2 separate regions of the Homo sapiens genome follow, and region 1 is linked to region 2. Evidence: fine-mapped expression QTL. A gene starts in region 2. The other region holds a variant in brackets. All regions are shown on one strand. Distances are from middle to middle.

The links. PIP is the estimated chance that this variant, and not a neighbour inherited with it, causes the effect. A credible set is the group of variants that fine-mapping cannot tell apart.
Region 1: its variant is the best candidate, but not a certain one, in a credible set for the expression of FLNA in whole blood (TOPMed, PIP 0.90).

Annotation. Positions count from the first base shown.
Region 1 is chrX:154,344,898-154,350,258 of GRCh38, forward strand. It overlaps FLNA (filamin A), which reads right to left. Exons shown (of 48, transcript NM_001110556.2): 45 at 5,134-5,310; 46 at 4,752-4,970; 47 at 4,465-4,668; 48 at 3,634-4,139. The coding sequence ends at 3,952. Among named protein-coding and RNA genes, the nearest start is that of FLNA, 27 kb to the right of the region's middle. RefSeq lists enhancers at 2,597-2,736, 2,767-2,856. The variant G/A (reference allele first, on the strand shown) is at 2,557.
Region 2 is chrX:154,372,570-154,377,933 of GRCh38, forward strand. FLNA (filamin A) reads right to left here and starts at 2,065. Exons shown (of 48, transcript NM_001110556.2): 1 at 1,937-2,065. RefSeq lists silencers at 340-399, 1,942-2,001, 2,012-2,151 and an enhancer at 803-852.

The DNA of each region.
Region 1 (5,361 bases), 28 kb before region 2:
GTGGGGACAGCCCCTCCCCCAGGGTGTCGGGTACAGGGTCCTGGGGTGCTTCAGGACACGGTCAGGCCCACCGACCCCCCACACTCCTGGGCCACCTGCCTGCTGGCTGTCCTCTGTGACCCTCTCTCCCCTGAGCCGAGGTGCCGGCCCGATCCCGCGGGAAGAACAGCGAGGAGGGCCGGCTCTCCCTGCTATGGGGGCCTCGGGGGCCTGGACGGGGACTGTGTCCTCCCTCCCCGGGCTGCCCGGCGCCCTCGCTCAGGGAGTGCTCTCCTAGCGACCTGTTCGGCAGATGGGCACAGCCACGACAGCAGCCAGACCCTGTCCCGGCCCATGCACCCACCTGGACGGATCGGCGCCCTCCTGGACTTACTGGCTCCATTGAGGGTCCCAAAGGAGCTGCCCCAGAGCACCCTAGGGGCGTCCGGACCCCTCGGCCCGCAGCAGCTACCAGCAGCCCAGGCAGGACCCAGGGGCTTCCGGGCACAGAGGCGCCGCTCCCTGGCTCGTGAGCCCAGGGCCTCTCCAGCCGTCCCCTGTTGGGGGCCTCCACTCCTGCTCTGGATCAAGGTCCTGCCCCTAGGGAGAGCTGGTGCCTTCGGGGGAGCGGGCCCTGGTTGCAGTTGGAGAGTGGGTCCAGGGATGGTGTTCTGCTTGGCTGCCGCCCTGCCTCCTGGGGGCCTCCCCAGATCCCCCCCGGCTGCTGTCAGCTGGGGCTGAGGGGTCCTGTGGCCTAGGGGGCATCCTGGTTCGGGAGTGCCCTGCCCTGGACACCGTGTCCAGGAAGGATACATGCTCACCCTTTGTTGGGGGCCAGGCACAGGGTGAGGGGGCACTCGGCCCCACCACCCGTGTCTCTGGGAACCCTGGCTGGGTACGGCCCCTCTTCCGAGAGATCCTGCCCGGGACTGGTGCCGCCTGCCTCGGGCCTGCCCCCCACACAGTTGGGGACCCTGGCGGGGCACCTCCTGCCAGCCACCTGCTGCTGTCCTAGCCTCAGCCGGGCCCTGCAAGCTGTCCATGTGCCTGGGACACCCGGTCCCTCTGCAAATGTTTGCAAACACCCCTGCCCCCACAGGCATGTCTGGGGGCCTCTCTGGGCCTTTGTGTGCCGAGTTGGGCGTGGGTGGCGGCGGGGGTCTTTCCATAGTCACCTACTTCCTGTCCTCCTCGGCCCCAGGTCCAGCGGTGCCCTGTCTGCTCGGTTTCCAGCCTGAGCCCTTTCCTGAGCTGGCCCGGTCCCCTAAGCTTCTGCAGCAGGTTCCCAGGTCCACCCCGAGGGACTCCTGGCCAGTGTTCCCAACAGTGTCTGAGTGCTGGCCTCAGTCCCTGGCCATGGATTTTGGGGAACCCCGCTCTGAGGGGCCGTTGCTTCCCTTTCCTCTCCAGGTCCCCTCCCAGTTTCCTCGGAGAGCGGGGATGGGGCTGTTGGGAGGCGGAAGGGAGGGTTGGGGTGCAGAGGTGTGGCTTGGGGGAGGGAAGGTCAACTGGGCTACCGCCCCTCCCTGCCCTCCCTGGACTCAGTCCAGACACAACCTGCGGGTTGGAGGCCTGTGCACCCTTTATCTCCTCCTAGTAGCCTGGCGGGTCCTCCTGGGTCTTCCTCAGTGTGTGTGAGTCCCCAGGCCATAGGACCCGGCAGGGTGGGGGCCCGTGCTCTGCTCTTGTTTTTGCTCCTACTTGCCCGCCCTTCCCGGGGGGGGCCCTGGCCAGGACCGTGCCAGTCTCTTTCCCTGCTGCCTGCCTGCCTGCCTGGGTGGCCTCCAGCTCACCACCCTGTGAGGCCTGTGGCCTCCCGCCAGGGCTGTCCTCAGGGGCCCGGATCCCCCTAGTTTATCTTCTGCCCTTGCCGCCCCACATGTGTCCCTCCCTGCAGCCTGGGGACGATCGGCAGGTTTGGGGGACCGGTGCCCTTGGTTCACCTAGCCCAGCCCTAGGGCGGTGGCCCTGCCAGGCATGGGGCTTGAGAGGGGATGTGATGGAGCAGACACAGGGAGGGGGCAGGAGACCCTGGGTGACTCGGGACAGGAGGGAGTGCCCCAGAGGTTCAGAATCCTGGGCACACAGTGGGCTGAGCGGACAAGTCGCAGCCTCAGGGGGACCTCCCGTCCTCCCAACTGGCACTGCATCTTTCTGGGCCTGGCTCTGCTGCCTCACAGCCCCGTTCAGCTGGTGGCTTTTAGAGGCTTCCAGAGTGTGCTTGGCCCCTTTACCTCTATGCCATTGGGCCCAGGGGGAGCAGTAGAGTGGCTGCGGCTGGGGGTGGGACTTCCCCTTTCTGTGTCTTGCTTGCCCCGTGTCTCCCAGTGAGTGGCCGCCCTGAGCCTGGGGCCAGCAGCCCAGCCCCAGTGAGAAATAAAAGTAGCCATCCTGCCTGAACTGCCGCTGCCTTTTCTACTTTGCCCTCTCAACAGGGGTCAAGGAGGGTACGCGTGGTGTTGAGGTCTCAGAAGGTCTGGGTTTGACGTGTGCCATGGCTGCAGGCTACGGCCTGGTCGTGTCAGACGCTGTGGAGCTGAGGGAGGATGTGGCGAGAAAGCTGAGCGTTGCCCCCGA[G/A]AGCCTTGCTTCCTGGCCCTTGTCTGCAGATGTCTGAGGTGGTGGTGTCCTTGTCAGGGGTTTGATCGAGGGCCAAAGCCTTTGGCCCAGGGAGCAGGCAGCTTTGGGTGCTGCAGTTGGGATGTCCCGATAGCATGCAGGCAGCACCAGGAGCCAGGACGACTTGGGATGTTATGTGTTTGGGGGCAATCTTTACAGTGGGAGACACATAGGTTGGTGTGGGAATCCACGGCAGGGGTACCAATGAGGGGATATTCAGCAGGGGGCCCAGGGTACCTGGGATTGGCACCTTGAATGCATCCACCTCCTGCCACCTGTTAACTAAAGGGCCCTGAGGCCCAGAGCCTGGGGGAGGGGGCCTCATCCCAGTCCCTTGTTTGGGGGAATGGTGGCATGGTGGCATGTTCAAGTTACCTGGCAGATGGCCAGGGCCTGCTGTGATTTTTTTTTTTTTTTTTTTTTGAGACAGAGTCTCGCTCTGTCGCCCAGGCTGGAGGGCAGTGGCGCGATCTCGGCTCACTGCAAGCTCTGTCTCCTGGGTTCGCACCATTCTCCTGCCTCAGCCTCCCGAGTAGCTGGGACTACAGGCGCCCGCCACCACACCTGGCTAATTTTTTGTATTTTTAGTAGAGACGGGGTTTCACCGTGTTAGCCAGGATGGTCTTGATCTCCTGACCTTGTGATCTGCCTGCCTCGGCCTCCCGAAGTGCTGGGATTACAGGCGTGAGCCACCACACCCGGCCGGGCCTGCTGTTGATTATCTGGCCACCTCCACCAGGGAGCCTTCCTGACACCACCCTACCCAGTAATGGGCTCTCCTGCCCAGCTCTTTGCCTCCTTGCTGCCTGGGCTCCATTCCAGGTTGCTACATGTTCCTCTCCTTACGTTGGCTTGAACTCAGGGAGGCAGAGGAAGCAAAGATAGATGGTGCCTTCTGGAGTCAGGGTGGGGTGAAGCAGGAGCCCTGGAGGGAGGTGACCTGTGCTCAGCCCATGCTTTGATCTGCTCATTGGCACCCCTGTCAGGTTGGCCTTGACTGGTCCCCCAACCCCAACAAAGCTACAGCCACGCAAAGGAGAATGGAAGCAAAACTTTATTCCTCTTGGCTGGAGAAGAGAACTAGTGGGTGGTTGTGTACAGGACCCCCATCCCTCACCCCTCCCAGAACCAAAGAAGACAAGCAGCGCCACCAAATGGCTCCCTCTGCCCAAGTGAAAGCCGAGAGGTCAGCGGCTGGCTGGGGAGGCAGGTGAGCGCAGCACGGCACAGGGCAGGGGCGGCTGCAGTGACAGGCGGGCGGCCAGGGCGGCCTGGGCCGGGGTTGAGGGGAAGAGGGCGGGGCTGCTTGGGTAGCGGGGCAGGCTTGGGGGCTGCCGGCTGGCACGGGCCCCAGACTCAGGGCACCACAACGCGGTAGGGGCTGCCTGGGATGTGCTCGTCCCCCCATTTGACCACCAGTGTGTACTCCCCCTTGTCCTTGAGCAGGTAGGACACGCTGTAGAGCCGGCTGCCCACGTGCTTCACCAGGATCTCCTCGCAGGGGGTCCTTGGGCCATGAACCCCCACCAGCAGCATGTTGTTGCCTGAGGCAAGAGGGGTCCTCAGTCCCAGGTCCCAGCCCCCTTCCTCCCGCTGGTGTCCTGCTCTCCTCTCCTGTCCCTAAGCCAGTTCTGGGGTGACAGTTCTCTCTTCCTAAAGAGCTGCCAGCACCTCCCCAACCCAGGCCAGCTTAGCAGATTCCAGCTCCTCCCTGGTCTTTGTTTGAGGGGTCCAGGAGGTGGCAGGGAGGTGGCTCTAGAAGTGAAAGCCACGCCCCAAAGGCGGTCCCTGCTCTCCCAGACACTGGCCATCCTGTGATTTCTGGCCTCATTTTGGTGGGAAGGTGGGCCGGGGGCCCAGGTTGCCCACCTGCTTTGCTGCAGTCTACTGTGAAGCTGCTCTTCTGGCCTACGTAGGCCTTGCTCAGCCCCAGGCCCTTGGCCACCACCTTGCTGGCGTCAGCAGGCCCAGGACCCGGGGCCCCATGCTGGGGGGCACAGGTGGCCTTGGTCAGAGAGTCTACAAACACTGATGATGTCTCGTGGAGGCTGTGGTTGCTGACGAGACGGGGGCCTGCAAGGCAGAGTGGGTGGGGCTAAGAGGTGGCTGTGGTGCCGGGCGTTGGGCAGATGCCAATAGCTTGGCCCCAGGCTCACCTGTGACTTTGGCCTTGAAGGGGCTGCCCCCAATGTGGTAGGGGCCGCCGTACTTGATGGAGATGAGGTAGCTGCCAGGTGCCATGGGGGTATAGGTGACGCGGTAGCCCTCAGGGCACTCCTGGCAATCCATCTTCACCTTGGAGGGGCCGTCAATGGTCACCGACAGGGCACCAGCTCCCGCATTGCTCGTGTTCACGACGAACTCAGCTGGGTTCCCTGGGAGCACAGGAGGTCAGGCAGAGCCAGACTGGCCTGCCTCCCTGTCCTCGGCCACCCAGCACAGGCTTGTCACCTCCAGGTGCCTCCTGTTGTCACCAAGAGCTTGGAGGCAAGGGCCTAGCAGCTGTGTGCACACGTGCAGCCGCACCGACAGACTTACCTGTGACACCGCCTTCCAGACCTGCTCCGTAAGCAGACACCAAGCCTGGGTCCCCTCCATGCCCAGGCTCCCCAACTCGGATCTTGAAGGGGCTTCCAGGGATGTGGGTGCCGTTGAACTTGACGTCAATCAGGTAAACGCCATTCTCCCGAGGGATGAAGCGCACAGCATACTTATCTGAGGAGCAGGGAGTCATGCTGTGGGCCTGGGGCCCCTCCTCAAACCAGC
Region 2 (5,364 bases):
TGCCGAGATGTAGACTGGGACCAGGGGACGGCTGGGGACGCTCACTGCTACTATCTTCAGTCAGAAGCCAGCCTGCCTATGGCTTCCTCCCCATTGTGCACTCCCCTCCCTCTCAGTCCTCGGTACCTCCCCTCTCCAGAATGTTTCCTCCTCTGAGTGTTTTTTTTTTTTTTCTAGGAAGGCAGGTATCTGTCCCTCCTGTTCAATTCTAGTAATAATTAATTTATCTGCTAAAGACCAGTGAGAGATGGAGGCCCTGGGTTGGCCAGCACGTCATGCCCAAATATGGTTGACTCTCCTGTAGCCCTGGGTGTCTACATGACACGTGGTGGGGCTGTGATCCGCCCAGCACATTCACTTCGGGGCAGCCTGTGGCCCCACTGGTTTTTCCCACTAGTAGTGGTGTTAGGGGGTGCAAATGGCATTTTCCAGTACTGAGGCCAACCCCTGTATATTGTCCCCTCTCCTGACCACTTTGAGACACACCTGCACCAAGTGCGCCTGGGCGTCTGGGAGCTGGGGTGGAGGTGGGAGGGAGGGCTGGGAAGGGGGAACCCATACAGACCCCTCCCTGCACGGGCCCCATTCAAGACGGGCTTGAAGTTGTCCTTCTGGTCCCCCTGCCCCACTGGAAAGCAAGTTCCCAGGCACGGAATTCCATCAATAATTGACTCTCTCTCCACTAAGGGCCATTGAGCTGGGTTGTCTGGGTTCATTCCTTAATCTTCAGAGCTCAGGGAAACTGAGTCAGAGTGACCAGTGGTCAATTCCAGCAGAAAGAGTGTCAGGAGGTGGGTGCCGTGTCTTCCAGCCCTAGCTTTTCCCTATTTAGAGGAAACAAGGAATGGGCGTGTAGAGGGTTCTTGTCCCTAGAACATAGTATCAACCGCCAGATGTCGCCCGATCCCAAAGCCACCAGATCGGGCAGTCCTGGGAAGCCAAAATCCAGCTCTTTCATATTTTCCCTTATTTGGAGTAGATTCTTGGATGTTAGGCACACCCCGCCCACCACACCACCCCTGGCCCTCAGACCCCAGGCCAGACCCTCCCACTGGGAGGTATAGCCCAAGCCCAGGAGCTGTTCAGCTGGGATCCCTAAGGAGCTGTTTCCAGGCCTGCGTAGCCAGGGGGCGCAGGAGGGAAGGAAGCCGCAGACTGGCAAGGTGAGAAGAGACCTGTGCTGGCAAGTCCAGGTGCGGCAGGTGAGGTCGCCCATTCCCAAGCTCCCACCTTGACGGTGCACTCGGAGCACTTACAAATGGGTCTGCCAGTGGATTTTAACCTATTTTGCCTGGCCCCAGGTGGCACGGGAATCTGGGGACATTGTTGGTTATATCCTGGCTGGCAGTGCGCATCCAACTCAGAGCCAACCTGGCATAGGGCCCAGGGCCCAACCAAGGAACCTGGCCTGGTCTCATCCTCACCATGGCCCCCATGGAGTAGAGCAGCCCCAGAACCAGCTCCCCTGTGCCCAAAGCAGCTGGTGCCCTGTGGACTCGAGCCAGCAAGGGACACGCTGTCCCCCTCCCAGTGGGCACACTGGCTGAGAAGTGTCCTTCCAGGTGGCCACTCGCCCTGAGTCCACACAAGTTCCTGGTGTCAGGGCCCTTCTCTCTCAGGCATGCAGTGGTCCGTTCATGGGCAAGTGCCCAGACACCCTCTCTCTCTCGGGGACCCCCCATGGCCTCAGGCTCCCACATTCGTGGGCACAGACATGGCTCGTGGGTCAACTAGGGAAGCTATTCTCTGGACACTCACTCCCAGATGCCAGGGGAGCCTCCATCGGCTCACGCATCCCAGCTGAACCTGGCCCGGACCTGGGCGCGAGCTGGCGCCTGCGTTTTCCGGCCTCTCTGCCCGCCTTCTCCAACCCCGCCCCCGGCCGACGAGGAGCGCGGCGACCCTACGGCGCGAAGCCGGGCCGCGGAGACCTCACCTGCTGTTCCTGAGAGCGACCGGTGACCGATGACCGCGGGGTGGCGCCCGGATCGCCTTCGCGCCCGCGCCCGCGCCAGGCGCCTCGGGGATTCTGTCGGCGTCCGCTGCGCGCGACGCGCCTCCACGCGAATGGGCCGCCGCCGCCCGCCTTCTTGTTGGCCGCACCCCCGCCCCGCGCCCGCCCCGCGCCCGGCCCGGCCCGGCGAGAAAGCCTTAATTGGTAAAATTGCCCAGGAGCCCGGGACGGGTGCGTGGGGGGCGGGGGTGCGGGGGCACGCCGTGAGCTCCAGCGACCCGCCGCCGGGCGACGCCGCCCCCCGAGATGAGCTCACCGCCGGCGAGGGCCGCCAGGCCCTGGGGGAGGGAGGGCTTCGTGGGGGAGTCGCCTCCAGCGCCCACAGGGACTGCAGGGCTCGTGTCTAGGCCCAATCACAAGGATCCTGCGTGTCTGAGTCTGGGGGAGCCAAGCGCACCCCAGGTGGAAAGGCCGAGGCCCAAGGCCACCTTCTCCAAGGAGCCACCCACAGTCACAGCCCCTGGTGTCTGTCCCAAGCCGGGATTGTTTCCTGGGGTGGGGGCAACAGGTCGTTGCAGGTGTTGGCTGGGCGCCTACGTCAGGCAGGGCCCCGGGACGGGACTGCAGGGCTCCGAGCCCTGGGATGAACCTGACTGCCATGGATCAGGCGCTGCCAGGTCTGGCCTGGGGTGGGCAGCAGAAACAGGATCGCTCAGGGGGACGAGAAAGTTAAGTTTGTTTAGTATTAAGAAGATTCTGATCTTAAAGAAAACATTGGCCGGGCATGGTGGCTCATGCCTATAATCCTAGCACTGTGGGAAGCTGAGGCAGGTGGATTAATTGAGCCCGGGAGTTTGAGACCAACCTGGGCAACACAGCAAGACACTATCTCTACCAAAAATATAAAAATTAGCTGGGCGTGGTGACGTGCACCGGTAGTCTCAGCTGCTCAGGAGACAGATGGGAGGATCGTTTAAGCCCGGGAGTTTGAGGCTGCAGTGAGCTATAATTTCACCACTACACTCCAGCCTGGGTCACACAGTGAAACCCTGTCACTAAACATAAAAAAAAAGGCCAGGTGCGGTGGTTCATGCCTGTAATCCCAGCACTTTGGGAGGCCGAAGTGGGTGGATCACGAGGTCAGGAGTTCAAGAACAGCCTGGCCAAGATGGTGAAACCCCGTCTCTACTAAAAATATAAAAACTAGCCGGGCGCAGTGGCAGGCGCCTGTAATCCCAGCTACTCGGGAGGCTGAGGCGGGAAAATCGCGTGAACCCGGGCGGCAGAGGTTGCAGTGAGCCGAGATCACGTCACTGCACTCCAACCTGGGTGATAGAGACTCCGTCTCAAAAAAAAAAAAAAAAAAAAAAAAAAAGGCCGGGCGTGGTGGATCCCAGCACTTTGGGAGGCTGAGGCAGGTGGATCACGAGGTCAGGAGTTTGAGACCAGCCTGGTCAACACAGTGAAACCCGGTCTCTACTAAAAATACAAAAATTAGCTGGGCGTGGTGGCAGGCGCCTGTAATCCCAGCTACTCGGGAGGCTGAGACAGGAGAATCGCGTGAACCTGGGAGGCGGAGGTTGCAGTGAGCTGAGATTGCGCCACTGCACTCCAGCCTGGGTGATAGAGCTAGACTGTGTCTTGGAAAAAAATAATAAATATAAAAATAAAAATACAAATAAAAAAATAACGTTAACAGCTCAGTGAACAATCATCTACTTGTCATAGACACTGAGGAATGTTTCCATGTTGATATTTTTTCCTCGTAACTCAATCATGTTGGGATTGTAAGTTATACAGCATATACTGCTTGCAAGCCATTCCATCCTTAAGGAGCAACTCAGTTTTCTTATTCTTGACTTAGAATTGGTTGCATCCCGATGTCTCCTCTGCCTGCACTTCCCAGGAAGAACCCCCTGAGGCCCTCAGATTTTCCTGCACACGCCCTTCCCAGACCCTCTGATGACTGCAAATCCCACCCTACCCTTGACGGGAAACTCTCTGAGGCTGTCCAGGTCATCACCCCCAGGGACCAGGTACTGGTGGGGGAATGTTCCATGAATTAATTGCTGTACTCAGGGCTCTTGGACAAGTCTCCCCTGATCGCAGGGTCCTGACTCTCCCTGTATAAGATGGAGGCTCTGCTGCTCAGGAGCCTGCCTGGCTTCCAGTGGTCTGGAGTGGAGCTGCACTGCAATGGGGCTGGACTTAGGCTCCAGGTACCCACAGGGTGGGTGCAGGGGGACCATCACAGTTCAGCTTCCTGGTGCCATCTGTGGTGGGACCTGATTGTGGGGCAAAGGGGTGGGACATAAAAGGCAGAGTGTCGAGGCAGGTACAGAACGGGTGGGGGGTGCTCCTTAGGGAGAAGGCAAATCTAGAATTCCTTGACCTCATAAGGAAACAGCTTGGATCCGTATGGGGAGGGGTGGCATGGGGGAGGATGGAGCAGCACTTAGTACACAGAGGCCTCTGGGAGAGGGGCCAGGATTGCAGAAGGCTTGCAGAGGTGCTGGGGAATCTGATTTTGTCAAAACTAAAAAATCCACAAGGCAGCCTCTGAGCAGCCCAGAGTCCAAACTGCCATCTGTCCCCTCAGCTCTGAAAGATGAGGTGCAAACCCCTGCCCTACCCAAGGCTCTCCTGCTGCACACTGCCAGGCACTGTCTTCATGGACCCACACTTCCTTCCATATTGCTGGGGACACAGTGGGGCCTTGCCAACAGTGATTCCTCTTTGTTAGGATCTTTGCGTGTAGTCAAAACAGGGCCCCATCTCCTCATTACTCCCCCAGGTGTCTACCTCTTCCCACCCCATGGGCAAACCTCCATGGATGACTGGTCTGTGACCCTCACCAGCCAGGCCAGCCATTCTGGACATGACCAGAGCCCTCCCCTCTTCTTCCCTTGTCACCAGCCCTCAACTGTGAAACTACAGATGGCATGTCACCTCTTCATGCTCCCAGTTTGGGGCCTACCCAGTGAGGGGCACACTAGTTGATTCCATACACCCTCAGCTGGCTTTGTTTAGAATGTGAATGTCACAGCCAGGCGCGGTGGCTTATGCCTGTAATCCCAGCACTTTGGGAGGCCGAGCCGGACTGATCACTTGAGGTCAGGAGTTCGAGACCAGCCTGGCCAACATGGTGAAATCCTGTTTCTACTAAAAATACAAATACTAAATACTAAAAATACAAAGCCAGGCATGGTGGCATGTGACTGTACTCCCAGCTACTCGGGAGGCTGAGACAGGAGAATCACTTGAACCCGGGAGGTGGAGGCTACAGAGAGCCAAGATTGCACCACTGCACTCCAGCCTGGGTGACAGAGCGAGACTGTCTCAAAAAAAAAAAAAAAAAAAAAAGAATATGAATGATGAATGTCACCTCCTTTCTCTTCTCCATGAGACAG